Linked DNA regions of Homo sapiens: regions 2 and 3 are each linked to region 1. Evidence: fine-mapped expression QTL. A gene starts in region 1. Each other region holds a variant in brackets. All regions are shown on one strand. Distances are from middle to middle. Region 1 holds the start of NEU3 (neuraminidase 3). Region 2 holds the start of RNF169 (ring finger protein 169). Region 3 overlaps SPCS2 (signal peptidase complex subunit 2).

The links.
Region 2: its variant is fine-mapped to the expression of NEU3 in whole blood (TOPMed, PIP above 0.99).
Region 3: its variant is fine-mapped to the expression of NEU3 in whole blood (TOPMed, PIP above 0.99).

What each region holds. Positions count from the first base shown.
Region 1 is chr11:74,983,115-74,993,303 of GRCh38, reverse strand. NEU3 (neuraminidase 3) reads right to left here and starts at 4,371. Exons shown (of 3, transcript NM_006656.6): 1 at 4,150-4,371. The coding sequence starts at 4,243. RefSeq lists enhancers at 303-422, 4,102-4,291, 4,572-4,621.
Region 2 is chr11:74,743,026-74,753,214 of GRCh38, reverse strand. RNF169 (ring finger protein 169) reads right to left here and starts at 4,366. Exons shown (of 6, transcript NM_001098638.2): 1 at 3,833-4,366. The coding sequence starts at 4,334. It also overlaps the pseudogene RPS12P22. RefSeq lists silencers at 3,592-3,691, 3,702-3,961, 3,992-4,141, 4,315-4,535 and enhancers at 3,509-4,102, 4,252-4,341. The variant TTA/A (reference allele first, on the strand shown) is at 3,091.
Region 3 is chr11:74,955,893-74,966,081 of GRCh38, reverse strand. It overlaps SPCS2 (signal peptidase complex subunit 2), which reads right to left. Exons shown (of 5, transcript NM_014752.3): 2 at 965-1,048; 3 at 159-319. Among named protein-coding and RNA genes, the nearest start is that of SPCS2, 12 kb to the right of the region's middle. The variant G/A (reference allele first, on the strand shown) is at 6,621.

The DNA of each region.
Region 1 (10,189 bases):
TGAACCCAGGAGGCAGAGCTTGCAGTGAGCTGAGATTGCCCCACTGCACTCCAGCCTGGGAGACGGAGCAAGACTCCATCTCAAAAACAAAAACAAAAAAACACCAACAACGACAACAAAAAACCCACTAGAGTCTAACCCATGCGGACCTATAGCTTCATTTGGTATAACAACAGGCCTATTAAAGTCCAAGTTTCTAGGTGAGACATCCAGTGCAGCTGAGGGCAGATTAAGGAGCTAACCACTCTGGTTTTCAGTTCACTCTTGGTTTCTAGGTCCCTGGAGATTTCTCTTACTTTCTTGCAAATTCAGCTATAAAGGGCTTTGTTATTTTTTTTCTTTTGAGACGGAGTTTTGCTCTTGTTGCCCAGGCTTGAGTGCAATGGTGTGAGCTCGGCTCACTGCAACCTCCACCTCCTGGGTTCAAGCAACTCCCCTGCTTCAGCCTCCCAAGTAGCTGGGATTGCAAGCGCCCGCCAGCACGCCCAGCTAATTTTTTGTATTTTTAGCAGAGACGGGTTTCACCATGTTGGCCAGGCTGGTCTCCAACTCCTGACCTCAGGTGATCCACCCACCTTGGCCTCCCAAAGTGCTGGTATTACAGGCATGAGCCACCGTGCCCGGCCGGCTTTGTTATATTTTACCCACCATTTTACAGGTTGGCTACCCTGCCATAATGCTCACAATGGAGTCTCCAAGTATTCTTCTTAAAGAAAACCAGGTGTTCCACTTCTCAGAGGTCCAAAAGGGGAATCAAGCCAGACAGACAAAAAGCAGCCTTAGAATTACTTTTTCCTCAAACCAACTGTCATCCAAACCCAATTTTACAAATCATTTGTAAATATTATCAGGCTGTAAGAACAATTGATTCAATAAATATTTCTAGGTTCCTCCTCTGTGTCAGGCCCTAAAATAGATGCTGAGAAGACAGAGAAGGATCAGAGGTTCCTGCTCTCAAGAAACCCAATCCAAGTGAGGGAAACAGACATATACATGGACAATTATAACATGATGTAATAAGTGCTACTTTAGAGGTAAACACAACAGCAAGTAGAAAAACACAAAAGTGGCATCTATCCAGATCAAGGCACCAGAGAAGGATTTTTGGAGAGAATGATTGAGCCAAAAGAACTCCTGCCTCATATAGTCACAGGCTCTGCCTGGAACACTCGTTTCAGATAGCCACATAACGCTCCCTCACCTTCTTCAGCTCTGCTCAAACATCATCCAATCAGGAAGGTTTCTCTGTCAACTCCTTTGCCCCAGCCTATCTTCTTTCCTTGTTCTATTCTCCACACCACTTATCACACTTTGATGCCTCCTATGTTACATTTGTTTAATACATACCACAAAATGGAAGCTCCAGAAACAGCAAGGGTATGTCTGTTTTCTTATTGCTCCGCCTTGACACCTAGAACTATGCCTATTAAGTAATAGGCACTCAACAAATTTTTGTTGAATGATTGAATGAATCAGTGAGCCAGATCTTAAAGAATGAACAGTGGATTAGCCAACTGAGGGTTAAAAGGAGAAGCGCAGAGGACAAGGATGTGAAAAGCCTATAGGCAACAGAAAACAGTGAGTTTTGGGGCCTCTCAGTAGTTTAGTGTGACTACAGTAAGGTGGAGTGCAAGGGATGGGGGCAGAGGTGGGACTGAAGGGGTCAGCACAGTCCAGATCCTGGGAGGCTTAGATAACTTATTAAGGTGTTTATTCCACAGATGGGAGACCACTCAAGAATTTTTGACAGAGGAATGGCATGATGATTTTAGACCAATCTTCCAGGAAGCTTTCAGGACAGTGAACCATACGGCAAAGTTGCACTGCTTTTGGCTACAGCCTCCTAGTGTCAACCAAGACAAACTTTTATCAATAGCATATGAATATTTAGTCACTTGTTCCTAACTTGAAGAAGGGAAAAGAACTATTGCTCAGTATCATGAGGGGAACTGGGAGAGTGGCCTTGCTGAGTCCAGAAGAAAAGCCTCCCTTCATTTCAATCCCAGGCTCTCAACAGCAGAATCAAAAGATAAGCAAGGGGAGACCATCTTCTCACTCAATACTAGAGCATACTTCTCTCCCCTCAATTCAGGCTCTCCTCCCCGGGAGGGTCAGGCTTTGTTCTAAGCAAACAATCTGTCTCTGAGCCAGGCTGGTGTAATGGTTAAGAACATAGGATTTGGACCAGGCCAGGACTATGTGACCTTGGGCATGTTATTCAACTTCTCTATGCTTCAGGATCCTCCCCTATACAATTCAGCAGAGTAGGTGATAGAAATAAAATGCTTAACTACAGTGGCTATTACAAGGCCTATGACATAGTATGAGTGCAATATATGACAGTTATTATTTTTAAACTACCAATTACTGTATATTCTAGTTTTATTCCTTGAATCCTGTGGATAACAATGACAATAATAACAATTACAACTCCCTTTCTTAAAAACATTTAAATCCCCCTTTATTGCTGAAAGAGAACATACTTTAAACTCTTAACACCTTAATTACAAGTTAAACCAACACTACTATCATCAGTCAACATGTGACTATTAGTTAAATCTAAACAGGAATTCTCCAGGTGATAAGAAGAATGGAGCACAGGATAGGCATGGAGCGGGTTAGGGCTCAGAACAGGAAAGGAAGAGGCTGGGTGCGGTGGCTCATGCCTATATTCCCACCACTCTGGGAGGCTGAGGTGGGCAGATCACTTGAGGTCAGGAGTTCGAGACCACCCTGGCCAACATGGTGACACCCCATCTCTACTAAAAATACAAAAAAAATTGGCCAGGCATGGTGGCATCCACCTGTAATCCCAGCTATTCGGGAGGCTGAGGCAGGAGAATCACTTGAAACCAGGAGACGGAGGTTGCAGTGAGCCGAGACTGCACCACTGCACTCCAGCTTGGGTGACACAGCAAGACTCCATCTCAAAAAAAAAAGGAAATGGAGAGGAAATAGGGAAATAATCACCAAAGGAGAAGCACAACTTGTCACATGGGCTGGATTCAAGTCTCAGCTCCATTTCTTGCTGCATGACGTTTTGATGGTTACTCAACCTCTAGGTCTTGGATTCCTTGCTTGTAAACTATGGATAATAATACCTACCTAAGCAGATCAATATGAAGAACCACTCAAAAGTGTTTTATAAATTTTAAACTGCTGTTTTAATAGGTGTCTTTAATTATAAATTTTGATGTCCTCACAATTTCATTTATGCTTTATTATCACTATAACAATTAGAGCCATTAATTTTTGTAATTATGCTGATCGTGTTGATGACAGAAGTAATATAGATGGTGATTCTGGCATTGCCACCCAAAACGTTTCACACAAATCAGGTGCTGGAAACGGGATAGAAAATAATCAGATATGGGCCTGCTCTGGGGTTCATTTAAGCAGAGAATTCAAATGATTACTTGCTGCTCGATATAATCACTTTCCCATCAAGTCCTTCCCGCTTTCTTACTGGGAGAGAGTATAGCCTAGCATGGACTCTGAAGTCTGACTTATCTTTGACACTTACTAGCAAGTCACTTTACTTCTGAGCTTCAGTTTCCTCACTTATAAAATGGAGATAATACCGCCTACTTCTCAGACTATAATAATGTAATTCCACAGCCTCCAACTAACCCAATGAGCCTCCAGTGAATCCCAGGAGGCCTTCCTATCTCATTTATTCACTCCTAACAAGTAATATTTAAGGAGCACCTACCACGTGCCAGACCTTTGAAGATCTGTAGTCTAAACCCTCTCATGGTATAGATGGGAAAACTCGGGCCCGGGATGGGGACAAAGCTTACTGAACGCCACTCCACAGTAAAATCTGGACCAAGACCCAGGTCTCCTAAGTTGAAACTGAAGCTCAGGGCTCTTTCTGCCGCCCAGAGACCTTTGGTAAGCAGGGCTTTTCCAGTCTCAGTTCCCTTTCATCTCTGGAGTGATAATTCTGAGGTTTAAGTTCGGCTTCTGTGAGAACGAATAAAAATAGGACTAGCCAAGAATTCTCTGGCCAGGTCAGATCCTAGCCGACTAGGTGGCTCTGTCTCAATAATCCAAGGCTGGATTTCCCAAACGCAGATGGTCTTGCTCAACCTGTCCCCACAGTTGAGTCCTCCTCGGGGAGCTCTCCTGTCTCCCAACCCCGCTCACCTGCACTGGACCCCGGCTCCTCCGTCTCTGTCGGGGCAGAGCTGGACGCCGGGGATTCTTCCATGGGGCGCGGGGGCAGGTCCGCAGGTCTCATTCGCCGAAGCCCGGAAGAGGCACCGGCCCCAAGGCTGGGGAGACTGAGACAGAGGAGGATAGAGAGGGAGAAACAACTGAGACGGAGGACACGGAGACAAGCCCCGAGAAGCGAAGAGCGTGTCGACTGCCGGAAACAGGTAACGGCAACGAAAAGAGGCGGGCGCAGGCTGTAGTCAGTGGCGGTTGGGGCCAACCGTTGGCCTACTCCGCGAGCCCTCCCCGTCCCGCCCCCTCGGCGCTGCCCCTCCCTCCAGCCCGCAGCTCGGTCCCCACCACGGCGTGGGACCGGCACCACCTCCACCCTCGCCAACTCAGCTCAAGCCCTGGGCCCACCTCAGTTCCCAACGGCCGCCTCCTCTCTTCAGTGCCACAGCCCCGAGCTCTTATATTGGTCTGTAGCTCGGTATCACCGCCTAAAGCTTCCCTGGACAGCCTGAGAGTTGAGCAAAGGTTCCCGGCCTCAGAGGGTACCCTACAAAAAGGACCAGAGGTCCAGAGCATTGGCTACTCTCCTTGCAAAATATGAAAATGAAAATATATTCATATATATAATTTATGTGTGTGTATATACACACATTTACATACATAGATTTGTCACATAGCACTGAGTCCATTCTTCTGTTTCACAGTACCGGAATTTAAGCCCCCCTCTCCCCAGCCAAAGAGGAAAGGACTGATCTAAGGTCATTTTTTATCTGGGACTAAGTACAACGTAAAGGTAATAGGCTGGGCCTGGTGGCTTATGCCTACAATCTCAGCGCTTTGGAAGGCCTACGTGGGAGGATGCCTTGAGCCCAGGAGTTGGAGGCTGTGGTGAGCTGTGATTGCACCACTGCACTCCAGCCTGGGTGACAGAGCGAGACCCTGTCTCTAAAATATAACAATTTTAAAAAGAAGAAATTTTACAAACGCCAATAAAAGGAAAGACAGACTGCTAACTTAGAGGACATAAAAATGTAAAGCTTCTGTAAATTTGAATTCGTGATATTTTTCTCATTAAAAAAAATCCTGTGCTGAGGCAGGGAACATACAAGATGAGCCTGGAACATCGTGGTGCCACAAGGAAAGAACTCACAAAATGATGAGGGTTCTTTGAAAGAACATAGGTGCCAACCTCAATACAACCTGCTGTATTTTTCTAAAAAAAAAAAAAAAAAAAAGAAAAAAAAAAAGGCCTAGAACCAGAGACCAACTCATCGTAATAAGCCCAAATAATGGGTCTTTTTTATTTTTATTTTTATTTTTTGAGATGGAGTGTGTCTCTGCCGCCCAGGCTGGAGTGCAGTGGCGTCATCTTGGCTCACTGCAAGCTCCGCCTCCCGGGTTCACGCCATTCTCCTGCCTCAGCCTCCCGAGTAGCTGGGACTACAGGCGCCCACCACCACGCCCGGCTAATTTTTTGTATTTTTTATAGAGACGGGGTTTCACCATGTTAGCCAGGATGATCTCGATCTCCTGACCTCGTGATCCGCCCGCCTCGGCCTACCAAAGTGCTGGGATTACAGGCGTGAGCCACCGCGCCTGGCAATAATGGGTCTTAAAATACTATTTTGTCCCCAAAGGAACCAGGGTTCCATGAAAAAAATGGCTGATTTTAGGTGCAGGGAAGAAAATTTATAAGATTAGCCTAGAACATCTTAACAGAAAGCAAGAAAGCCATAAAAGACTATTTCAGGTCATGTCAAAAGAAGGTAAGAATCAATTTGAAGGTGATTCCACTGGCCAAATATGGAAAAATTAGAACATCAAAAAGAACAAGGACTGCAAAGAAAGTTCATATCGACATATGGAGAAAAATGTCACTTTGGTCACCTCAGAGTTTGCTAAGGAAAGCAGCTTTTTATTCTGCCTTTCCTGTACAAACCCTATTTCTGGGTAACTAAATAGTTGATGGGGAAAAGTTCTCCTTCATAAAATAATTAACTGACCAATGCCAAATGAATGATAGAATTTCATCATTTTGTCCTTTAATGACAAAATGAATTTAATGAATCTAGACAGCAATTATCAATAGCTACTAAAAGCTACACCCTTATTGCTCACCTTTTCTTCCCTTCCTACTTTCCCACCTCATTATGGCACTCCCTGCATCTCTCACATATACTATTGCCCTCAGGTCCTGGTCTCAGAACTTGCCTCTGGGAGAACTCAAATAAAGACCCTATACCAGGAGATAAGAACAACAAAACAGTAATGAGTTAAGGATCTAACTTAAGAATGTAGAAAAGGAAGAACAGAATAAATCCCAAAAAGGTAGAAAAGGAAATGATGAAAATAAGAACAGAATAAATGAAACAAGAAGCAAAGTACAATAGAGGGGACTGACAAAAGCAAATATTAGTCTTGACATATCTAATAAACCGGACAAACCCTCTGGCAAGACTCATTTTTAAAAGTTATAAATGATATTAATGAAAAGGAGACTATATGCAGGGATACAACAGAGATGAGAAATAAATATTAAACAAACTTTATTCCTTAAGTTTGAAAATCTAGATAAAGTTAATACAGTTTTAGAAAAAGTTACCAAACTAAGATATGGAAAATGTGAAGTCTTACAACTATTTAAAAATCTAAATCAGTATTTTAAAATCTATTCACAAAGATAACACAACTATCCCAATTATTCCAATCTTGTATTTCCTTCATTAATAGAAGGAATGTAAATTGGTACAGTCGCTTTAGAGGAAAATTTAGCAATACCTAGAAAAGTAAAAATGTATATCCTCTCCCACCAAGGAATCCCACTACCTGTATTAGATGTGTCCATACAAGAATGCTCATAGCAGCAAATGTTTAATAGTGAAAAATTATAAAAGACCTAAATGTCCATTAATAGGGTAAATAAACTGTCATGTTTAACAGTATACAGCAGTGAAATAGAATAAATTGTAGCTACAGGTATCAATCTAAATTATCTTCACAAACAAAATATTGAACAAAAAAGCAAGTTGCACAATACAGAGAGAATGGTACTTGTGCAGATTTACCATAGCAGGCCTAACAGGTTATCCTTAGGAAGGCCTGCTTGCAAGGTTGGTGTTTTTTGACAGGTGTCTGGAAACTTGGCTCTCAAAGTGTTCCCAGTCACCAGTTAACTGAAAAGGGTAGTTGACTATGTAGACTGTTTGATTGCAGTATGATTTATGGTGGATACCTGCTTGCTTTCTAGGAGTCTTTATTATGTGCTAGGCAGATGGTGCCCACATGACCAAACCTCAATAAACTGTGGGTACTCTCTAATGGGCTCCCTGGACAGAAACATTACACACGTGTTGCTGCATTTTTGTTGTTGGGGCAAAGTGGGCTCTTTGCAATCCCTCATGGGAGGAAGAGCATAAGGAAGCCTGCAAATGGATTCCTCCAGACTCTGCCAGTGTCCTTTTCCCTTATGATCCAGATGTGTCCTTATTTTATCGAAGAATAAATCTTAGTCATATATGCTGAGTCGCGTGGGTCCTTCTAGCAAATACCTGAACACAGGGGTTGTTTGGGAGACTCTCAATCAAAAACCACATATAAAGTTTAAAAACAGGTAAAACAATAACCATATATATTGTATAAGAGCTCCCAAGGAGGTAAAAATAAAATTAAAAAATAACCATATATGTCTCTATATATCTGTATATATCCATATATATAATGGACACATATGTATGAAGAAAATGCTTACGAATAATAAACACCACATTCCAGGTAGTAGTAACTTCTGAAAGTGCAGGAAGTAAGATATGATTAAGGATACCCTGAGGACTTCAACTGTATTGGTAATATATATATTTTTAATGGCAGTAGGTTCACAAATATTCATCTTATTATTCTTTAAGCCTTATTTGTCTGAAATATTTCCTTTATAAAAACCGGGTCATGTCCTGGGGTTCTTTATCAGACTTCTCCAAGTTCACAATCACCAACTCTGTGGATCTCAAATTTTATAGACCCAAAGCTAATACCAAATCTTTCTCAATTCTTTGAGGTAAACTCAGATGGTCTCATCTTATGCCTGAGAAAGTGAAGTTAAAGAGCAATTTCTATATTTAGAGGTAGAGAATCCTGGCTCCAATCCTCTCTTCCCACTTCCTAGCTGAGTGATCTCGGCAACTTATTTAACTTCTGTGCCTCAGGTTCCTCATCTGTAAAATGGCCCAACTCCTCACTCATGGTTCAGTTTTCACTTCCTGTATGAGGACCTCCCAGACCTCCATACTAGAACAAATACTCCTTTTCAAGCCCCCATAGCACTTTGCACCTCCTTCTACTGTGTTCAGATTGTCTAAGTGTCTGACACTCTCAGCAGACTGTGAGCAACTAAAGCGAGGGGATCAGGCCTGGCACCCGTATTAGCAGAGCAGAATTATATAAAAGTTTGAAGGAAGAGGGATGCAGAAGGGTATTAAGTAATGCGATCAAGTAAGATGGCACAGGAATATCGGGGGAACTTCCTGTTACAGAAGTTAGGGAGCTTCCAAGATATGGGACAGGCAGAAGTAGGAGTGGGGCTGTCAAGAATTGTGAAGGGTCTGAGATTTTTATCTTACCTGCAAGCTAACAAGATAGCCTGTTACTACCTGTAAAAAGGATAGTTTGTTACTTACAGCAATAGCAGTAGCCAGAGTACCAGCATTTGTTCCAGTTCTGAGCCCCAATTCCCATATGATGACGCAGAGAGCCAGATGATACCTGCACATGTAATGAAGTGCCTTAAAGGAGAGGAACTTTGAGGTTAGGGAACCTGAATCTTCAATAATGGGCAGTGAGCATGTGCGCCCTTTGCTCTGATACCTTCTAAGGTTGTTTACTATACAAACATTCCTGGACAAATAGTCTGGAACAAAGATAGTCAGTGCCTCTCTTTGCAAAATATGCAGAAATGCTAGAGACCCATGAAGAATTGTCTCCCAACGATATGCACCTTTCATTTCTATGCCATCTTGGCTTTTGATGAATTCTCCCATAAGTATGCCACTCCACCTGTCACTCTAATTAAACTGACAGAAACTGGAACCAGGTCCATTCAAAGTATTTTATTACATTTAATTAAAGGTACTATCAACAGAACTCTATGTAACAGGATAAGACCAATCAGTACTGACTTCAGCCATATCCAAGGGCCTGTATCCAACAAGGTAGGAAAAAAAAACCAACAATCATAAACCATCAGGATCTACCTTAGAAAGCCAAGTGGCATTCTCAAGTTTCTGTATTGACCCTGTACTCGGTCTGAGACATTAATCCAGTCACAGTGGGATGTATTAGTGATTGCACTGACTCCAATTTGGCCCACAAAGAGGAAGAGCAATTCTATCACCCATAACCACCCTGGCCAATGAATTGAGGCTGACTTAAGTGCCATCCAGAGCTGAGGTGGTGTCACTGATGACTGCAGCTAAAGTCAAGAACAAATTCCTTATCAACATTTCCAATAGGATGACTCTCAGGATAGTGATAACTGCCTGCAGTATGCATAAATGAATCAGTTACGCTTTCAGGAAGCTCCTCTGGCCGCTGTTGTTTCCTCAAGAGCTCAGTAGCAGCCTAAGAGGTGCCTATCTTTTTAAAGGTCACTCTTGGAGTACTCAGGATATTTCACCTTGGTGACTGCAAAGTCCACATAGCTGGTTATAATGGAAAATGGCCTGAGTACTACAGGAGTAACTAAGTTTTCAACTAAACCTGTGCTTTTATTTCTTTTCCTCTTGCGGTTGTATGTTGTTTCTTTTAGACTACATCTCTCTATACTGCAGTAGTCCCTGAATGGGAGACTTATAAACTTTCCTAGTTCAATTAAATGTATATTGGTATTAACAACACACTTTGATGCTAAAGCCATAAAACAGCAGTACATTAAATGTTTAGAGGCTCCATCCACAGGTCATTTTAATTTTCCTTTCCCATGCAATTATCCCCTAAACCAGCCCGTGAAAGGCCTTTGTCCTTTCTCTTC
Region 2 (10,189 bases), 240 kb after region 1:
GGGTGGATCACCTGAGATCAGGAGTTTGAGACCAGCCTGATCAACATGGAGAAACCCCGTCTCTACTAAAAATACAAAATTAGCCGGGCGTGGTGGCGCACACCTGTAATCCCAGCTACTCGGGAGATGGAGACAGGAGAATCGCTTGAACCGGTGAGGCGGAGGTTGCGGTGAACCGAGATCATGCCATTGCACTCCAGCCTGGGCAACAGAGCAAGACTCTGTCTCAAAAAATAAATTAATTAATTAATAAATAAAATAAAACAATGGTTCAGATTCTGGTGAAAGCTACTGGTGACTTCTCCATAAAAATGCACACATGCATTTACATAATGATTTTATAAACAATTATTTATAATAGCAAAAGACAGGAAACAATCAAAATGTCCACCAATAGGTGGTTAATTATGCTATATCCACTCAGTAAAATTCCATACAACATACTGCTGTGGACTTTGATGATGTATTCTTAAACCAAAAAAAAAGCAAGTTACAGAACAGTGTGTATAATGTACAACCTTTTGTATAAAAATGGCAAAAAATAAGCATACTTGAATTTTCATGTAGATAGATCCATAAACTGTGGAAGAACAAACAAGAATCTTTTTTTTTTTTTTTTGAGACAGAGTCTTGCTCTGCCACCAGGCTGGAGTGCAGTGGCATGATGTCAGCTCACTGCAGCCTACGCCTCCCAGGTTCAAGCGAGTCTCCTGCCTCAGCCTCCCCAGTAGCTGGAACTACAGGCGTGTGCCACCGCACCTGGCTAATTTTTGTATTTTTAGTAGAGACAAGGTTTCACCATGTTAGCCAGGCTGGTCTTGAACTCCTGACCTCAAGTGATCCGCCCGCCTTAGCCTCCCAAAGTGCCAGATTTACAGGCATGAGCCACCATGCCCAGCCCAAGAATCTTTGACGGGAGTGAGAAATAAGGGGGTAAGAGAGAATCACTTCTTTTTTTTCCCTTTTTTTTTTTTTTTTTTTTTTTTAAGACAGTCTCCCTCTGTCAACAGGCTAGAGTGCAGCGGTGCAATCTTGGCTCACTGCAACCTCCGCCTCCTGGGTTCAAGAGATTCTCCTGTCTCAGTCTCCCAAGTAGCTGGGACTACAGGCACACACCACCATGCCCAGCTAATTTTTGTATTTTTAGTAGAGACGGGGTTTCACCATGTTGGCCAGACTGGTCTCCATCTCTTGACCTTGTGATCCGCCCACCTCGGCCTCCCAAAGTGCTGGGATTACAGGGGTGAGCCACCGCGCCTGGCCAAAGGGAATCTTTTCATTGTATACTTTGTTACATTTTTGTTTGAATCCTGTGAATGCACTGCCTATTAAAAATTTTAATTTAAAAATACTGTATATAACTACAAGAGGATCAGACAACCCACTGAAGCTAAGAGATACTTCCTAAGCCTTTTGGCAATATTTTTGTATTCTAAAATTTTTCAACTGAATAAGCACATAACTGTATATACAAAACAATCCAACAACAAGAACATTTAAGAAAACCATTTTTCATTTTGGTCCTCATATAAACATATAAAGTAATTAATGAATACTAAGTGACTCAATAGATTCTAATTTGAAATCTCATTTTAGATAATTTCCCTTAATCACTGATAAATTTTATGACAAAAACATCTTCAAGGGAAAAAGTTTGCACAAATCATCAAGCCAAACTTCCTCTCATGGTTCAAATTCAGAACTGGTATTTCACAACAGTCTCCAAGCTTAGAAATCAAAATGAAAATTTCTATCCTATGTGGCCATATAATCAGTAGTACTAATAGGGAGACCAGAGAAATACTGTCTTATATCGTGACCATAATCTCAGACTATAAAGCAAATTAAGTAGCATATGAAACCATCACACCACATCCACAAAATTAAAGACGTTTCATCCCTGATTTGAGCAGGAATAGGATAGAATCGGGTTTTCATCCTTAGGCAAGTTAGTTAACCTCTCTGGACCTCAGTTTCATCTATAAAATGGAAATAAAAGTACTTATCTCATAGGGATGTTGTGAAGCTTAAAAGGAATAACGAGGGCTGAGCACAGTGGCTCACGCCTGTAATCCCAACACTTCAGGAGGCAGAGGTGGGCGGATCACTTGACGCCAGGGGTTCGAAACCAGTCTGGCCAACATGGCGAAACCCCGTCTCTACTAAAATTACAAAAATTAGCAGGGTGTGGTGGCGCGTGCCTGTGGTCCCAGCTACTGGGCGGAGGCAGGAGAATCGCTTGAACCTGGGAGGCAGAGGTTGCAGTCAGCTGAGAGATTGGCCACTGCACTCCAGCCTGGGAGACAGAGTGAGACTCAGTCTCAAAAAAAAAAAAAAAAAAAAAAAAAACCTTGGGAGGCCAAGGCGGGCGGATCACAAGGTCAGGAGTTCAAGACCAGCCTGGCCAACACAGTGAAACCTCATCTGTACTAAAAATACAAAAAAGCCGGGCGTGGTGGTGGGCGCCTGTAATCCCAGCTACTCGGGAGGCTGCGGCAGGAGAATCGCTTGAACCTGAAGGGGTGGTGCACAGAGGCTGCAGTGAGTGGAGATCGCACCATTACACTCCAGCCCGGGCGACAGTGCGAGACTCCATCTCAAAAAAAAAAAAAAAAAAAAAAAAAAAGGTGAGGGGAGTGACAAGGAACATAGAAAGTAAGATGCAGGTCCCCCTCAACCCCAGGAATAAAATAGCCCAATATCCTAGGACAGTGACAGGTGTCTCTGGCGGCTTGAATCAAAACAGAGTGCATTCTAGAACCTGTGGTTTCTAGAAGCTGCACTTGTATACACAAGCAATGCCTCTCTTTCCTTACCCAAAAAAACACATGGCAGAATTCCCAAAACAGAAGGTACAAATATCTGGCCTTTCGTGATTTATGTTTCTTGAAAATCTCATTCTAGGTAAGCATTTTTTATCAAACAGAGCTGCAGATGTTATGTTGACTGGGTGTGTCCCCAAAAGAATCCTAAGTTATAACAGTCTTATTTTATACAGGGCACTTTGCATTTCAAAGCTCAGAACCGAGGAATAGCAGGCTGCTGGTGTTAGGGGAAAGAAGTTCAAGGCAAGAGTCCTACAACAGACTT[TTA/A]ATTGCCAGCAAGCCAGTAGGAAACCCATACTGCCAAGGAGATAGAAGCAGCCCCTGCCACCCAACCTTTGTTTCCAAAACTTTTAAACCCAAGCCAGCTTTTCTGTCAGGCACTACTGGACTTAGTAGTACTAGTATTACAAATATAAACGACAGTCACTTACTGCTTCCTCACTATGTGCCAAGTTCTGTGCTAAGCATACATTTTCCAAAATGTATGAAAACAACTGCACAAGTGTGCTCCCAACCCCCTCTGCTCTCGAGTCTGAAAAGCTCCCTTCACATCCTCAAATTCAACCTGTTCCCTAAACTCCGGATTCTCCACACCCTTCACTGACCCTTTCAAGGCCAGGAGCCACATCTCTCCAAGCAATATGACCCCCAAACTCTTCATCCAACATTAAACCAAGCACTTCTCTGATCCAAGGCCCCTCCCACTCCCACACACCAATTCCAACCTGCCCCTAACTTGTTCCAACAATTCTGTTTCCCTCCAAACTTCGGACTTACGTAAGGCACAGGGTGCCCTCACCGCCCCTCCGCATGCAACGTGCCTGTCCTTCACTCTGAAGTTCAAAATTCACAAACACACTGCACCTGGGTAGAGCCCGGGTTCTAATCCCACGAGAACTCTCCACACCCGCCCGAGTAGGGCCCGGGACTCTCCACCCCCTCACCAGGCCGGGCCGGGGCGCGCTCGGCCTCGCTCCAGACCCTAAGGGGAAGTGGGGAAGCTCCACCTGGCTCCGCAGGCGCGGCACGCGGCTCCTGCTCTGGCCTGGGCCCCGCGGCAGCCGCGCCCCCGTCCCGGCGCGGGCGGCAGCGCTCGGGTTGGCTGCGGCGGGCGCACTCGCCCAGCACCTCTGAGTCGGCCTGGCCGTCGTCGCGGGCCCGACGGCGGGCCCAGCCTGGGCCGCGGGCGCGGCAGCGAGGGCAACCCGGGCCCGCCGCGTCGGCGGCGCGTTGGGCGCAGCCTCGGCAAAGCGAGTGGCCGCACGGCAGGGCCGCTGCTTCTCCGGGGGGCTCCAGGCACCCGGCGCAGCCCGATTCCTCCGGCCGCGGCGGCAGCGGCGGCTGCAGCAACGGCGGCGACAACACCAACAGCGAAGGTCCAGAAGCCGGGCCTGGGGCCCCAGTCTTAGCTGCCGCCGTCTCGTCACAGCGGCCCCGCCGGCCCCGCCGACTCAGAGCGGCTGCTGCCGCCGCGGAAGAGGCCCGAGTACTCGGACCTGCAGCCGCCATCTTGTTTCCCGTTTGAAGGGAGAGTCGGTTGCGAGGGAGAAGAGTGGAGGGCGGGGCAGTACGCGCGGTGGGCAGTGCTATCTACATATTCATGAGGGGCGAGGCTTCTGTGAGCCCAAAGAGGGTTCTCCTCAGACCTGATTGGCCAGAGGGGATACTTCATTAATATTTATTAGTTATTCTTTATTATGCGGTCATCAGCCGCACTCTCGAAAAGTCCTTGCAGTTTCCTCTTACTGAACTGAAAGAGGTGGGAACTGAGGGGCTTTACTGGCAATTCTGAACGATGTTAAACTTTGATACACGTACTTATCCTGTAATGCCTTGATAACTGAGGAGAAAGTGAGTGGGGAATATGTGAGTTACTCAGAAACCTGCCTTAGTGTTCATTTGATATGAGGGCCTGAGCTCTCTCCTAAGGATGGGGGTAGCTTTGTGACTGAAACCAGGCCCACCGTGGTAACTAACTGCCAAAAGGAGCAGCCTCTTGTCAATCCTACCTCCTCATCCTCTCTCCCCATGTCCCTTCCTGAAACTGCCCCCCTTGGCTGGTAAAACCACACTTTCCTGGTTTTTTTCCCAGGCTCTTGGCTCCTTCTCAGTCTCCCGTGTTTGGTGCTTCCATGTGGGTGTTCCTCTAGGCTTAGGCCTCAGTCCCCTTCTCACTCTGCGTGCTGCACTGGTCCACATTTTCTTCCCTCAGGAGCTCCCAGATTGCTGTCTGCAGCCCAGGCCTCCTGAGTCCAGCCCTCCATATTCAACTGCCTGATGGAAACATCCTCTTAGATCCCTACATTCCTCATGTACAAAACTAATGTCACTGTCTCCCATCCTCCTTTCAAAACTGCTCTTCTTATTTCCTTCATTCTATGAAAGGTCCCATCCTCCCAGGTACTCAAGCTCCAAACCTAGTCATCTTGAACTTCTTCCTTATCTCCCACAAACCATCAGTTATTTAGTCCTGTCAATTCCACTATCAAAATGACTATTTCCCCACCTCTTCATCCCATTCCCACTGCCCAATTCAGGTCTAATCATCTCTCATCTAGATTACTGCAGTAGCTGCTATAGATTGATTGTCTCCCCTCTCCCAACCTCTTTTCTAATCCATCCTCCACACTCTTCGAGTTGCTTCCTATAGGCCAGCTCTGACCGTGTCACTCCTGCTTGAGCTAGGGAGAGGTGCTTGGACTTTGATGCTAGTGCCCTTTCTAGATGCAGAGGTTCCAGGAGAAAGAATGACCCCTCTCTAATGGAAAGGTGGTTCTGCTACAGTAGTTCTCCCATTCTTTGCTTTCTTTGCCCTGGGATAGATTTGGAGCAGGGCAAAGAATGGGAAGCATTAAATAAATGGCATTTCTTAGTGGAAACCTTTATAGGATAACACGAGTTTTGTAAAGAGAGAAAAATAAAAAAGCAACATAGGCTGGGGGCGGTGGCTCACGCCTGCACTTTGGGAGGATGAGGCAGGCAGATCGCTTGAGCTCAGGAGTTAAAGACCAGCCTGGGCAACATGGTGAAACCCCATCTCTACAAAAAATACAGAAATTAGCTGGGCATGGTGGCACTCACCTGTACTCAGGAGGCTGAGGCAGGAAGATCACTGGAGTCCATGAGGTTAAGGCTGCAGTGAGCCGTGATGGCACCACTGCATTCCAACCTGGACAACAGAATGAGACATTGTCTCAAAAAAAAAAATCAACATAATATAATAGAAGGCATGAGAAGCCCTGGGTTTTGATGAGATTGCCCAGAGCTAGCGGTAAACCAATCCAGTGCCGAGTGATTGATTAACTCAGAGAGCAGGGGGAAAAAAAGGTGATGGATTCCCAAGATAAGAACCAGATGGCTAAAGGACAGTCAAGAGTTGAAGAAAGGCCAATGGGTGATTAAAACAAAGACCTGTTTGCATAGAGACCCAGACAGAATCCTGCCAGACACAGAAGTATGGCCTTGGCTAGGCTATCCTTTATCCATGGGTCCTGCCCACTTCCATCCCAACTTAAGGTTCTTGAGGACATTTTTCCCGGATTCTGACAAAGGAGATCTGTGATCCAGAGATCAAGCCAACCATCATTAGAAATGGGACCATTTGTGCAGGCTGTTCACTCTCGATGGTTTGGATCTTTTAATCTGTTTACTGTTGGAGGAGCTGAGCCACAGAAACATAGCATGCTTTCTTGGATACAAATAAATATAGAAAATTTCCTTTAGCAGAGGGAAAAAGCAAGAGGTCTGAGTAGCACTGGACCAGAAGCCAGGAGATCTGGGGTTGGTCTTGGCCCCTTCTAACTCACTGTGTGATTTCAAACAGCTAACTTCCTTCTGGGCCTCAATCTCCTCATTTTTAAAACAAGAGTATTGAAGGCTTGGTGCTGTGGCTCACGCCTGTAATCCCAGCACTCTGGGAGGCCGAGGCAGGCAGATCACGAGGTCAGGAGACCAAGACCATCCTGGCTAACACGGTGAAACCCCGTCTCTACTAAAAATACAAAAAATTAGCCGGGCGTGGTGGCGGGCGCCTGTAGTCCTAGCTACTCGGGAGGCTGAGGCAGGAGAATGGCGTGAACCCGGGAGGCGGAGGTTGCAGTAAGCCGAGATGGCACCACTGCTCTCCAGCCTGGGCGACAGAGCAAGACTCCATCTCGAAAAAAAAAAAGAGTATTGAAAGTCATCAGTTCTCGCCCTTTCCCTCCTGCCGCCGAGTCGCGCGGAGGCGGAGGCTTGGGTGCGTTCAAGATTCAGGTTCACCCGTAACCCACTGCCATGGCCGAGGAAGGCATTGCTGCTGGAGGTGTAATGGAGGTTAATACTGCTTTACAAGAGGTGCTGAAGACCGCCCTCATCCACGATGGCCTAGCACGTGGAATTCGCGAAGCTGCCAAAGTCTTAGACAAGCGCCAAGCCCATCTTTGTGTGCTTGCATCCAACTGTGATGAGCCTATGTATGTCAAGTTGGTGGAGGCCCTTTGTGCTGAACACCAAATCAACCTAATTAAGGTTGATGACAACAAGAAACTAGGAGAATGGGTAGGCCTCTGTAAAATTGACAGAGAGGGGAAACCCCATAAAGTGGTTGGTTACAGTTGTGTAGTAGTTAAGGACTATGGCAAGGAGTCTCAGGCCAAGGATGTCATCGAAGAGTATTTCAAATGCAAGAAATGAAGAAATAAATCTTTGGCTCACAAAAAAAAAAAAAAAAAAAAAAAAGAAAGTCATCAGTTCTCAACCTGGGACACACCTCAGAAACACCTGTATATATCAAGGTCCCACCTCAGATCTAGTGAACCCAGAAACCCAGGTGGGGGATACCAGGCTGTGTATTTTTTTTTTTAGTGCCATAAGAATTCTAATGAATACTCCTAGGTAAGACCACTACAATAGATAAATTCAAAGGACCATTCCAGCACTAACATTGTAGAAGTCCAACTTCCAATTTCCAGCCTCTTCTCTCCTCTATGCCATTGCTGAGTAATCTTACTAAAAGCAATAGTGGTGACAGAGAGCAAGGCACACCTAAGAAATCTGGAGAGCCACTCACTATGTGGGAAGCTAATAACAATGAGGATGATTCTAAAGTTTCAAGCCTAGCAGCCTGGGATTGTGATGAAAATTGAAAACTGACAAAAATGCATCCAAACCTCTTTCCTTCCTTCCCTCCTTCCTTCCTTCCTTCCTTTCTTTCTCTCTTTTTTTTTTTTTTTTTTTTTTTTTTGAGACAGGGTCTCATTCTTTTGCCCAGGCTGGAGGGCAGTAAGCAATCACGGCTCACTGCAACCTCTGCCTCCCAGGCTCAAGCAATCCTCTCACCGCAGCCTCCTGAGTAGCTGGGACTACAGGCACATAACACCACACCCAGGTAACTTTTATATTTTTTATAGAGACAGAGTTTCACCATGTTGCTCAGGCTGGTCTTGAACTCTTAAGCCCAAGTGATCTACCTGCCTCGGCCTCTCAAAGTGCTGGGATTACAGGCATGAGCTACCGTGCCTGGCCCAAACCTCCTTTCTATTTAGGGAATTCCCCATTCTATATAGTATTGATGAGGCTAGGGAAGCTGAACCTGAAGGGATATTCTTCTCCCTGCCCCCTAACAGTTAGGACGTGACACATGACCCAGGCTCAGCCACCTGGCCACTATTCTCTGAGCTTGGCATCTTCAGCAAGTGACATGAAAACATAGAGACAATTTTAGAATTATTCATAGCAACAGAGACAGTAGGTATGCAACAGCAGTGGGGCCCTGGTGGGGTTTGAGGGGGGTGGCCCTGCCATGATGAGGGTGGCCATGCCAGGCTGTACCTGAGACACAGACTTGGCTGTGGTTCCCGTTGCCGAGCCTGCCTAGGTTACAGCCCATTTTCCATATCCGATGCTGCAGTTTTCCTGTCAACTCTTTGTATCCTTTCAGTAAATTTCATTTTTTCTTAAATGACTCACAGTCTCTGTTGTTTACATCAAAGTACTCTAACTGAGACATTAGCTTGTTGTTTTTGAAGTGTCGCCTAAAAATGGTTGTCAAGGGTGCTTGGTAGATTATAAAATGATACAAGAAGCTTAAGCCAACAGCCTAGAGTAGAACAAGCCCAAATAGCTTTTCTCTAAGGCCCCACCTGCACCACAGACCACCATGGGAAGAAGGATTCACAGACTCCCTTTAATGCACGATGCCAACTGGAACAAATGGCAGTGCAGCCCCAGGTACCAATGCTTCCCCTCCAGCTGCTTTCTGAGGATTGCATTGCTGTCAGAATTCCCTACCATCCTTCTCATAGCACCTCTACCCAGATAGCTCTGCATGGTTCCACCCCACCACTACCCCTTCCTCACTCCTCATCCACATCACTACAAAACTTCCCTCTAGCTGATGGCTCCAGCTTCTCCTTGCTGGACTGAAAGACTCAGATATGAGCAAGGCCATTCAGCCTAGTTCCAGGTGGAGACAAGGCTGTTTCTTCCTGCAAGCCCAAGACCTCTCCTTCCAGCTTAAGTGCTGCTGAGTCCATCCTGAGACCTTACACATCTAAAAAGGAGAAGGCTAAGCCCCTCAGACCACACCAGTGCCACCTGTCCTCTTTGGATAGCATCTTCTTCCTGTGCTCTTCCTCCCTCAAGTCAGATCTCCCCCTGAGATTTGGCCCCTTCCATTTTGCTTTAAAGATTCTTGCTACCTTCTTACTTTTATTCATCTTCAGTTCCTTCCCTTTTGTTTCAGAGGAAGAAGTAATTCTTTTTTTTTTTTTTTTTTTTTTTTTTTTTTTTGAGACAGAGTTTCGCTCTGTCGCCCAGGCTGGAGTGCAGTGGCGCGATCTCGGCTCACTGCAAGCTCTGCCTCCCGGGTTCATGCCATTCTCCTGCCTCAGCCTCCCGAGTAGCTGGGACTACAGGTGCCCGCCACCATGTCCGGCTAATTTTTTGTATTTTTAGTAGAGATGGGGTTTCACTGTGTTAGCCAGGATAGTCTCCATCTCCTGACCTCCACCTGCCTCGGCCTCCCAAAGTGCTGGGATTACAGGCGTGAGCCACTGCGCCCGGCCTAGGTAATTCTTTTGCAAATCTAATCCCTCCATCTGTGTTTGTCATGTCATCTGCCCAGCCTCCTCCAGACTCTTTCCAAACACTCTATGAATACAAATAAGACTTGGTCCTTGCCCCCTCAAAGTCAAAACCTAACAGAAGGGCAAAAGTAGAAAAAAATATAGCAGAAAACAGAAGAGTTATAGAAGAATTGCAAGGGCTACAACAGACATAAACAGAATGCCATGGAAGCAGGGAGCAAAGGTGAGAGGAAGTTCAGGAGATTTCACAGAAGAGGGGACATTTGAGCTCGTTTTTAAAGACTGAGGGAAGGAAGT
Region 3 (10,189 bases), 27 kb after region 1:
GATAGATATTTACTATATAAACATCACAGCTCAAAATGTTGAATTCTAACATTAGCAAGCCCTAATATGAAAGTCCGTTTTGTTTTTTGTAGGGAGAAATATCAGCAGATTTAAAAAAATAGTCACTAGAAAACAACCTGAGCATAAATAAAGGATATGATATGACACACAAAGCCAAAACGGGTTTGGACTCTGGAAAGGGGTGCATATAATCCCAAATCAAAGCCACTATGGCAAAGAAACAGGAGATTGTACAGATGGTGAGGCGACCATCAATTAGACCAAAATTCTCCACATATTTGTATTTTTCCAGAAGTACCTGGTGAGAAAAACAAGGAATCAAGCTAATAGGAATACTTCCTCCCCAGTATGTGCTTTTATTCTTGATTTCCATGATAAAAGAATCATATGAATTACCAAGTAGTTCCCTCCAGTTGGGATTTTACCACACCAAACAAGTAAAACTCAAGCCTTCTATAAAGAACCAAGAGAAAAAGTTCATCAATCCCTCATATAAAAAACTTTAAACTCCTCAACTTTTCCCACAGCTAAAATGTTTTACTTTTACAAATGGAGAGATGATTTATCATGAATGAATGTCCTATCTTCTCTCACCCTTCTGTGCTCTAGGCTAATTAATCTCAAAAACAAAAAATTACCAGCTTTCTTGAGATAGCCAACATCTATATTTCTTTTTTTTTTAATTTTATTATTATTATACTTTAAGTTTTAGGGTACATGTGCACAACGTGCAGGTTTGTTACATATGTATACATGTGCCATGTTGGTGATATTTCAACACACTTCCTCTGACTTTTTCTGTGAGAAATTTTAGAAACTGCTTTCTGACTTAATTTCTAACACTGAAAACTAAGGTCACTCCAAGTTACAAAAGGAAAAGATTTCCCAGGAGAGATGGCCATCAGCTGTATAGATACTAACCAACCCCTCCTCAAGAAAGTACCTTTTTGGCAGAATCATCCAAAGAGTTTTTCACAGCTGATCCATCCCACTTGTCAATTTTTACAGGCTTATCATCTATCTTCCACTGTAAAACAAACAAAAAAGTTGTGCATCAAGAAACCTGGCCTCTTACTGAAAGTAAAATGAACCATTTTTTAAGAGCATCCCTCATGCACATATAATATTTACTCTTTGTCTTCTGATGTTGCAGAACTAAAAGACAAAACAGGCTATTCTGGGCACACTCCTATGGGGTAGCCCTGCAAGAAGCAGTTAAAAACAAACAAAAAAGACCAAACAATTAAAAATCAGGTTGAAAGAGACTAGGTCACTAGAGTCAGGTGGTACTCATGTGATGCTGATGTTGCCAGTCTCCATGCAGAGAATATAAAAACAACCCCAGAACCAGAAAACGTATATGGGCTGCACAGACTGTAAGTGTAAACTTGTATATCCCACCTTCATTTTACCGAAATGTGAGTACAGAAAATTACTCTATTTGTTCATTCTTTCTTTCTGTGACCACAAAACTCAGAAAATACAGATACATGAATTTACAGATACTAACAAAATGGGGAGGATCTCCTTTAATATCACTTTGTCAGCTAACAACTTTTATTATTTTACCAGCATGTCTTAACTTTAAGATAGCAATTCCAGGATAGCCTGTTGGAAACAACACTACATTTTAAATTACAAACCAAGTCCCAGACTCAGTCCCAACACGAGTTGAGTGGACAAACTCTACTTCTATTTCCCTTATCTATAGAGGTTTAGAAAGTTTCCCAAACACTGCTATTCAGAAGCAAATAATTCTCTCACTGCTCATGTAGAAGTTCAAAATGTTACAGCACCTACGAATGCCAACTTAGCACCCTGAATTCAACTTCCCACTTCCAGGAATGTTTCTATAACTGAATACATGTGAAATGAAATACAAGGCTACTCACTGCAGCATTGTCTGTAATAGTGAAAAGCTGGAGGTAACTCGAGTGCTCATTTACAAGGGGATTGGTTAAACAAACTACGGTACATCCAGATATCTTATCAGGGTAGAGAAATACGGGGAGGAGTAAGATTACTCTATGTGTGCCTTTAAAATTTTTTAACCATGTGAATATATTACATAGTAAAAAATTTTCTCAAATGCAAGTATTTAAGTAAATATAGCTTAAGAGGAACAGGGTGCTACAAATAATCTGACAAACCTGTTTTTTGTAGACCATTAATGGCCAACTCTTAATTTTTTAGATCAAGTGAACAAATATTGTATTCCATAAAAATTACAAACCAGCAAGCAATCCAACGTTCATCTGGATTTAGAATGGATTATTTTACTGAAAGACAGAGAATGTCATATTTATCTTTCGGATTGAGCACAAGTACAAAGATAATGCCTATAAGAAATAAAGAGATGGCAGTGGTGAGTACCTGCCATCCCAGATACTTGGGAGGCTGAGGTGGCAGAACAGCTTGAGCCCAGGAGCTCGAGTCCAGCCTGGGCAATATAGTGAGAGCTTGTCTCTGAAAATAAATAAATAAATAAATAAACAAACAAACAAACAAACAAACAATAAAAAATAAAATAAGAGATGGGATAAAAATAATTGTAAAGATTTTAAACAACTACAGAAATACAATTCATCAACCTTGTTTTTTTTTTAACTGTGATTCTATATATTATTACACAAAAGAGAAAACCTGTTCTGTGAAGTTTGTTAGAAGAAATAACATGAGCTAAAAATAGCCATACTTAAAGTGATTAAAAGTCAATCAAGTTTTTTTTCCCCCTTGGTGCCCTGTAAAAGCAAAAATTTTTCTTTGAGAAAATTACTCATGGCAGCATACTGCACTATTGACTGCCATAGACTGCCAGCCTACAAATCAAACACGACATCTAATTTTAAAGATACAAACTGAACCAAAAAGAAATTAGCAGGTTTTCTAGCTAGATAGCTCATTTACACTGTCAAGTAAATCCCTCTTTGAAGACATGCAAAAGAACCAACTTGTAGAGCCAAATCCACCATAGCATTTGAATTATTTGTGAAATAAAGTCAGAATAAAGTCATTTAAAAATTATGGGTCATTCAAAAACAGGAAAATCATATTCTCAGACACCTAGCCACACTTCACTGCCTGCATTGCATCACAGAAAAGAAACTTGCCTTTAAAAGTCAGAGGATAATGTCTTAACCAATTTGGGAGAATAAAATGCAGAAGCAGCCATTACAATGTATTGAAATAGCCTCAGCTCTAACTTCACTGCCTGGTACCTAGAAGCAATCTTCAGTAAGTGGAAAAGAAACATTTCCAGTGAATTACATGAAATCACAAGAAAGGTTATAATTTGACTTTACGGCAACACAGCCCATTTCGAAGCAAGTAATGTCTCTACTACAGTATGGAGAACCATCTGGAAGAAGGGGAGTTGCTATTAGGTGCTTCTTTTTCTGATTATTACTTCTCATCATGCTCAAAAACTGCTCATCAACTAAAATGTATGCTGCTCCTCATGTTCTCTCTACTACTAATTCGGGTATTTTAAAAGCTATCTTTTTTTTTTTTTTGCCTCAATTTTGTCTTCCTCAACACTAATTGCAAATTGCTTTCCTTTTGTAATAATAAAAAGAGAAAGCAAAAATTAGTTTCTTTTATGTGGGACCTCACAGGATAAATTAAAAAGAAGGGCAGTGTGCAGAAATAAGTGAACCTGGGTCCAAGACTGCCATCTTTAGCAAGGCTTGTTTGCAAGGTTGGCCCTTGGCTGGTATCTGACAAGCTGGCTGATAAAACAAATCCCTACACTGATATAAATACATTCCCTCAGTGATAAGAATGGCTCACTGTGCCTCAACTGTTTGTATAAATGATGTGATTTATGTTGAACACCTTTCCTTCTGGAAATCTAGAAAAAGTTCTTTATGTTGCCAGTATCTAAAATTTCAAGATGATATCCCTTACACAGGTCAATTTTCACCCACTGTAAAACTGCTATTGCCACTCATCTTTTTATTGCAGCACTAAGCAGACCCTCAATCCAGAAACCAATGTCCTTCAGATTAGAAAACTAGAGTTCAAAGATGTTAAGTGCCATACAAATAGTAAATGACAGGCCAACAAAATTCTTTAGGGCTAAATTACAAATACATGGCTCATTATAAAACTGTCTCTTCTTCAGTGATATAAACTTATTTTTATTTGCCTTAATCCCTGAACTCAATCCCAAAGCAGATTGTGGCCTTATTCTTAAAGGTGTACTGTACTTCAAATCACAAGCTGATTGGTTCTGGTCAGGTGCAGTGGCTCACACCTATAATCCCAGCACTTTGGGAGGCTGAGGCAGATGGATCATTTGAGGTTAGGAGTCCGAGACCAGCCTGGCCAACATTGTGAAACCCCATCTCTACTAAAAGTACAAAACTTAGCCAGGCTAAGTAATCCCAGCTACTTGGGAGGCTGAGGCAAGAGATCACTTGAATCCAGGAGGCAGAGGTTGCAGTGAGCCGAGATGGTGCCATTGCACTCTAGCCTGGGTGAACAGAGGAAGACTCCATCTCAAAAAACAAACAAACAAACAAACAAACAACAACAACAACAAAAAACAAGCTGACTGGATTTAGACTAAATACAAATGTATGTAGGCAAATGCTTTTTTTCCTTACCCAATAAGGTGAATCCTTATTATCCAAGGGAGAATGGAGTCAGGCTACTTTATTTTAATCCTCACTTTTCCACTTAATACTGGAAGGCACTGGGCAAATAATTTAACCTCTCTAAAGCCTTATTAGTTTGCTAAATTGTAAAATTAAGATGGTGAAAGTATCTATTTCACAGGTTGGTATGAGAAGTAAATAGTGTAATTATAAAACATAGCACAGTGCACAGTGCCTGGTACCTAGCAAGTACTTCATAAAAATTAGCTATTGCTGTTGCTATTAATGATATAAAACTATATAATACACTGCATCATGGTTACCTGACTGTATGTATTGTCTCCCTCACTGGGTCACAGGGACTATACACTTTTGTATTCTCAGAGCCTGGAACACAATATACTCTCAATAGCTTTTTTTTTTTTTTAATGTCTAAATCCTTATAAAGAAAAAAAGGGAAGAAAAAGATCTCTAAAATGTTACTCTCCAGTTTAAATTTAGCAAATGTAAACATGGTCAAAATGATCTCACTTGGTTCTTATTCACAGAATTTCTTTAAGGGATGGAGGGCAGACAGAAGGTATAATCATAGCTACCATTTCCTGAATGCCTAACATGTGCTACGGATGTGCTAAGTATTTTATATACACTATCTCACTTAATTTCCACAATAACTCTACAAGGTAAGAACAGTTAAAATCCTCCTTTTACAGATAACACTAAGGGTTTAAAAAACCTGCCAAAGGTGAAAGGCAGAAAGTGGTAAAGCCAGGACTCAAAACCCATGCTCTCTCATTATTCTACACTGCTTTCCCATGAAGTGCAAGGAAAGGAATTATTAGCCATCAAAAACACAAAGAACAGGAAACAAAGAGATCCCTGAAGTGACAGCTATACATTGTATCTTGATTCCTAACAAGCTCTAGTAATAACATTTTAAAAACCTAAAAAAAAAAAAAAGATGTTAATCTTGAATAGGACCACAAAACTCACAGGGTATCAAAAATGTTGAACCTCCCCCCCCAATGTAAAACCAACTGCAATTTGGCTGAAAACAGAGCTCAAAAAGTACTATCTTAAAGAAATTACTCCCCTACACCACCCACTGAAGAGATAAAGACAACTTTTTTTTGAGACAGAGTCTTACTCTGTCACCCAGGCTGAGCGCAGTGGCGCGATCTCAGCTCACTGTAACCTCCGCCTCCTGGGTTCAAGCAATTCTCATGCCTCAGCCTCCCGAGTAGCTGGGATTACAGACAAGTGTCATCACAGTCAGCTAATTTTTGTATTTTTTAATAGAGATGGGGTTTCACCATGTTGGCCAGGCTAGTCTCGAACTCCTGGCCTCAAGTGATCCACGTACCTCAGCCTCCCAAAGTGCCACCACACCCGGCCAAGATAAAGACAACTTTTGTCAGACTAACACACCTGATGCCAGAGCTGGCTGGCTAACCAGTTCAAAGAAAACAGGCATTTGATAGCTTTAATAGAACATTATGAAGAATCATTTCAGTTACGTTTCTCCACTGCACATTTGAATAATAAAAAATTCTACAAAGACACTTCACTGAAGGTATGGCATCAGGAACTCCATAAGTGCTTAGGAAGGATATTAAACACAACTCAGGTCTGAAGGATATGTAGTCAGTACAGGAAGGCATTTTCCAAATTAACTCATTTGAGGGAATACAGCCTTCTGTTCCCATGCATCTCACCACACTCAAAGGGATAGGGTGGGATCAAAAAAAGAGACAAAATAAGCCAGGCACAGTGGCAACATGTTTATAACTTCAGCACTTTGGGAGGCCAAGGTGGAAGGATCGCTTGAGTTCAGGAGTCTGAGATCAGCCTGGGCAACATAGCAAGACTCCTCCGTATCTACAAAAAAATGTAATTTAAAAAATTAGCCAGGTGTGGTGGTGCCCACCTAAAGTCCCAGCTACTTGGGAGACAGAGGCAGGAAGATGGCTTGAGCTCAGGAGGTATAGGCTGCAGTGAGCC[G/A]TGATTGTGCCACTGCACTCCAGCCTGGACAATAGAGTGAGAATCCATCTCAAAAAACAAAAGGACAAAATCCTTGGTCATTAGGATATGTCCAGCAAAACAAAATTGTTTTGAGTATGACACATGAACACCTTCAATTATCTTATTTTAATCACAGTGAAAACAGAAGTTATGCAGTGATATAAAAGACCTGAGTGGATTGCTTCATAAAGTTCCCTGGCTTGATAATAAGACTCAAAGGATTCCTCAATTCACACTGGAGAGATGAAGAATTACCAAGGGTGAGAGTGGTGTCAATGGTGACCCTGTTCTGATTTAGACAGAACTGAGCATGGCTTTAAGAAAAATAAACTTTTTCTCTCCTTTATCCCAGTTTAGAAAGTAGACAGAAGCTGCAAAGGGGGAAAGTAGTAGGAGATGAGGCATCCGAGAGAAACCATTTCCTAGTTATTAGGCTAAAGAACTTGAACTTTATTCTGAAGCAGGCAATGGAGAGTATTTTAAGCATGGGAATAACAATCAAATTTACGTTTTTTTTTTAAGTCATTTTAGTGGCAACCTGGCAGATGATCTGGAGGGGAGTAACACTGGACATAGAGATGCAGATGGGGCCTGATGTAAGTGCAGAGCCTCAATGCTCAACAGAGCAGCAGTAGGGGGACTGAAAGGGAGTATTCTGAGGTAGAATTGGCAGGACTTAGTAACAGACTAGTTATAAGGAACATGAAAGAGAAGAGACAGAGATGACCACCTACTAGAATTAGGGCTTGGATGACTTGTTGGAGCCATCATGTCATTTTCCAAGAAGAAGAATACAGGAGGAAAAAGGATAAATACCCATTTGTATATGTGGAGTTCTAAACTAAAATAAGGAGATAATAAAAACTGATGGCAAACTCAGAAGCTGAGATTACAATTTCAGTTGGAAATATATAGTGCCTATATCCCCCCCACACACACATATTTAGCAAGAAAGGAAAATGTTCAGTTTGGGAAGAAAATGATGTCTATCTTAAGAATGTGCACTGTCATCTAATTTAGATCCCAATTCAGCAAAAACATGGTATCTCAAAGAGATTATGCTCTTAGCAACACACTGAATCTTCAATTTCAATCTATTTTTTATAAAAATGGCCAAGATACACTGCAAAGAAAATTACTAGCTTAACAGTGCTTATTACTGACTGCATTCATCACTGGAGTTAGAAGTTAGGAAATTACCATGTGTTAATTAAATTATGAGCACACACATTAGTGACAACCCCAGAGAAACTGATTCTTAGGTTTTACACTGCCTTCTCTACTCCACCACAAACTGCATTTAGCAGTGACGGGGCTGCTTCTACATCAACCCAGCCCATGAATAGAGAAGCCTACATGACTGAAGCTCTTTGAGGGCCAGATCACTGGATCCATGACTTAAACATCCCACCACTGAACCCAGTAAGTGTGAGATCTAAGGCTGAAAAGAGCTTAAAGTTAAAACAACTTGATTCAGCATATTAATCAGTAATGCTCCAACAACGAAGTATTTTTTTCTACCAGCAAACTGAAATGTAGTCAACAATCCTTTCACTACTAGCAACTAACATCTTCTAAAGTCTGACTGAATTGTTGGCATAATCATCCAGTATGAATTTCTTACCTTTGCAATGGGTAGACAAGAAATCAGATATACAAAAAAAATGGTCTTTACAATTTAGTTAAGGAAAATCCTATACTTACAATGAATTATAAACTATGCTAAGTGCTAAATGGTAAGAAGTAGACATAGAGGGGCAAGGGCACACTACAAGTTCAAGGATCTGCAAAAAAGATTTTGGATAAAATGTTACCTATTTCCTCAGGGATATCAATCTGCAGCAAAGCTGACTGGGGAGGGTTGGAAGAGAGAGGGATGCTGCCAAGGAAGACCTGAATTAAGGCACGAAGACTGGCTAGGAATGTACTACATTGATACAGATGTGCGATGAGTCCTTATTCTAGAAAGGTGGCAGATCACGTGCTCCATTTAAGAATTACATGCAATCAGTTCTGAAAAATGCAGCTGAGTGCAAATTCAGGGAGAGGACCATACAGCCGTTTCATCTGAAATCCATCTCCTACTGCCTGGAAAAATATTAACTGTTATATGACTTTTCTGGGTTTCTTTTTCTTTTTAAGGAAACTGCCAAGCCTCTCAATAGCAATTCATTCCAGTGTTGGACATTCTTTTAAAAGAAAAAAATAATATTTTTAAACACAACCTTTATGGCAATTACACTCTTTATTTTCTTTAAATTAATATTGAATGGCTGCTTGCTATGTGCCAAGCACTGTTCTAGCCACTAGGGATATAGTCATAAACAAGACAAATTCTGCACTCAAAGAGCTTCTTCTTGTATGGAAGATAAAAAGTAAACAAATACGCATATAATTCCAGGCTCTAAAAAAGATTATACAGAAAAATGCAATAGAGTTTTTAAAAAGACTAAAAAATAGTGAGGGAAAATAGTTAACATCTGAGCAGAGTTGAATAAAGGAGTAACCCATGAGAAAATCTGGAGTGTCCCAGTGAAAACAGTACACCAAAATCCCCCAAGCTTAACGTGTTTGAGGAACAGCAGAAAAGCCAGGGTTTCCAGAGTATAATGACTCAAGCAGAAACTGACAGATGAGGATGACAGAAACAAGCAGGATCAAGAACATGCAGGGGCTATAAAATAGGCCACAATTAGGGATTTGGAGTTTAGCTAACTGAGATGGGAAGTTACTGGAGAGATTCAGCAAGAGAGTGAGTGATCTATGTTTTAAAACATCAGTCTGGCTGCTGTGTGGAGAACAAAATGTAACGGAGCCAAGCACGGAAGCTGGAAGACCAGTTGAAAGGGCTACTACAGCTCTCTAGGTAGGAGTGGTCAGATTCTGGATGTACAGCCAGGAAAATACGACAATGAGATGGCTGTGGAGTACAAAGCAAAGAGAAGAATCAAGGGTAACTCTCAGGTTTTTGTTTGAATAAATTAGATGAATGGAGGTATCTACCTGAAATGAAGAAGACTGGGAGAGAAGCACTTTGAGGGGTAAGCGGAAATCAAGAGATTGGCTCTGGCTATTGATGCCTGATACATGTTTTAGACATTTAAGTGGAGATGACAAGTAGGCGGTTGGACAGAAAAGTCTGGGACTTATAGGAAAGGTCCAGGTTGAGAATATAAATGTAGAAGTCAGCAACTTCTACATGTTATTTAAGTCATGACATTGGGTATCACCTTGGGATGAGGGTAGACAGAGGAGAGGGCCAGGGGTAATAAGCTCATAAGCTCAGGGACTGGCAATATTTACACAGGTCAGGAAGAAGACCAAAGAACAATGAAGACAACAAAGACTAGTTGACGTAGGAGGAAAGCTGGGGGCAAGTGGTGTCCTAGAAGCCAAGTAAAGAAAGTATTTCAAGAAAAAAGAAGTGATCAATAAGTCAAATGCTACTGAAAGGCTAAGTAATATAAAAAACTACTATTGAAATTTGATAAGATGGAGATCAGAGCAGAGAAATGGTGCTAGCAACAGCTGAAAAAGGTACCTAGGCA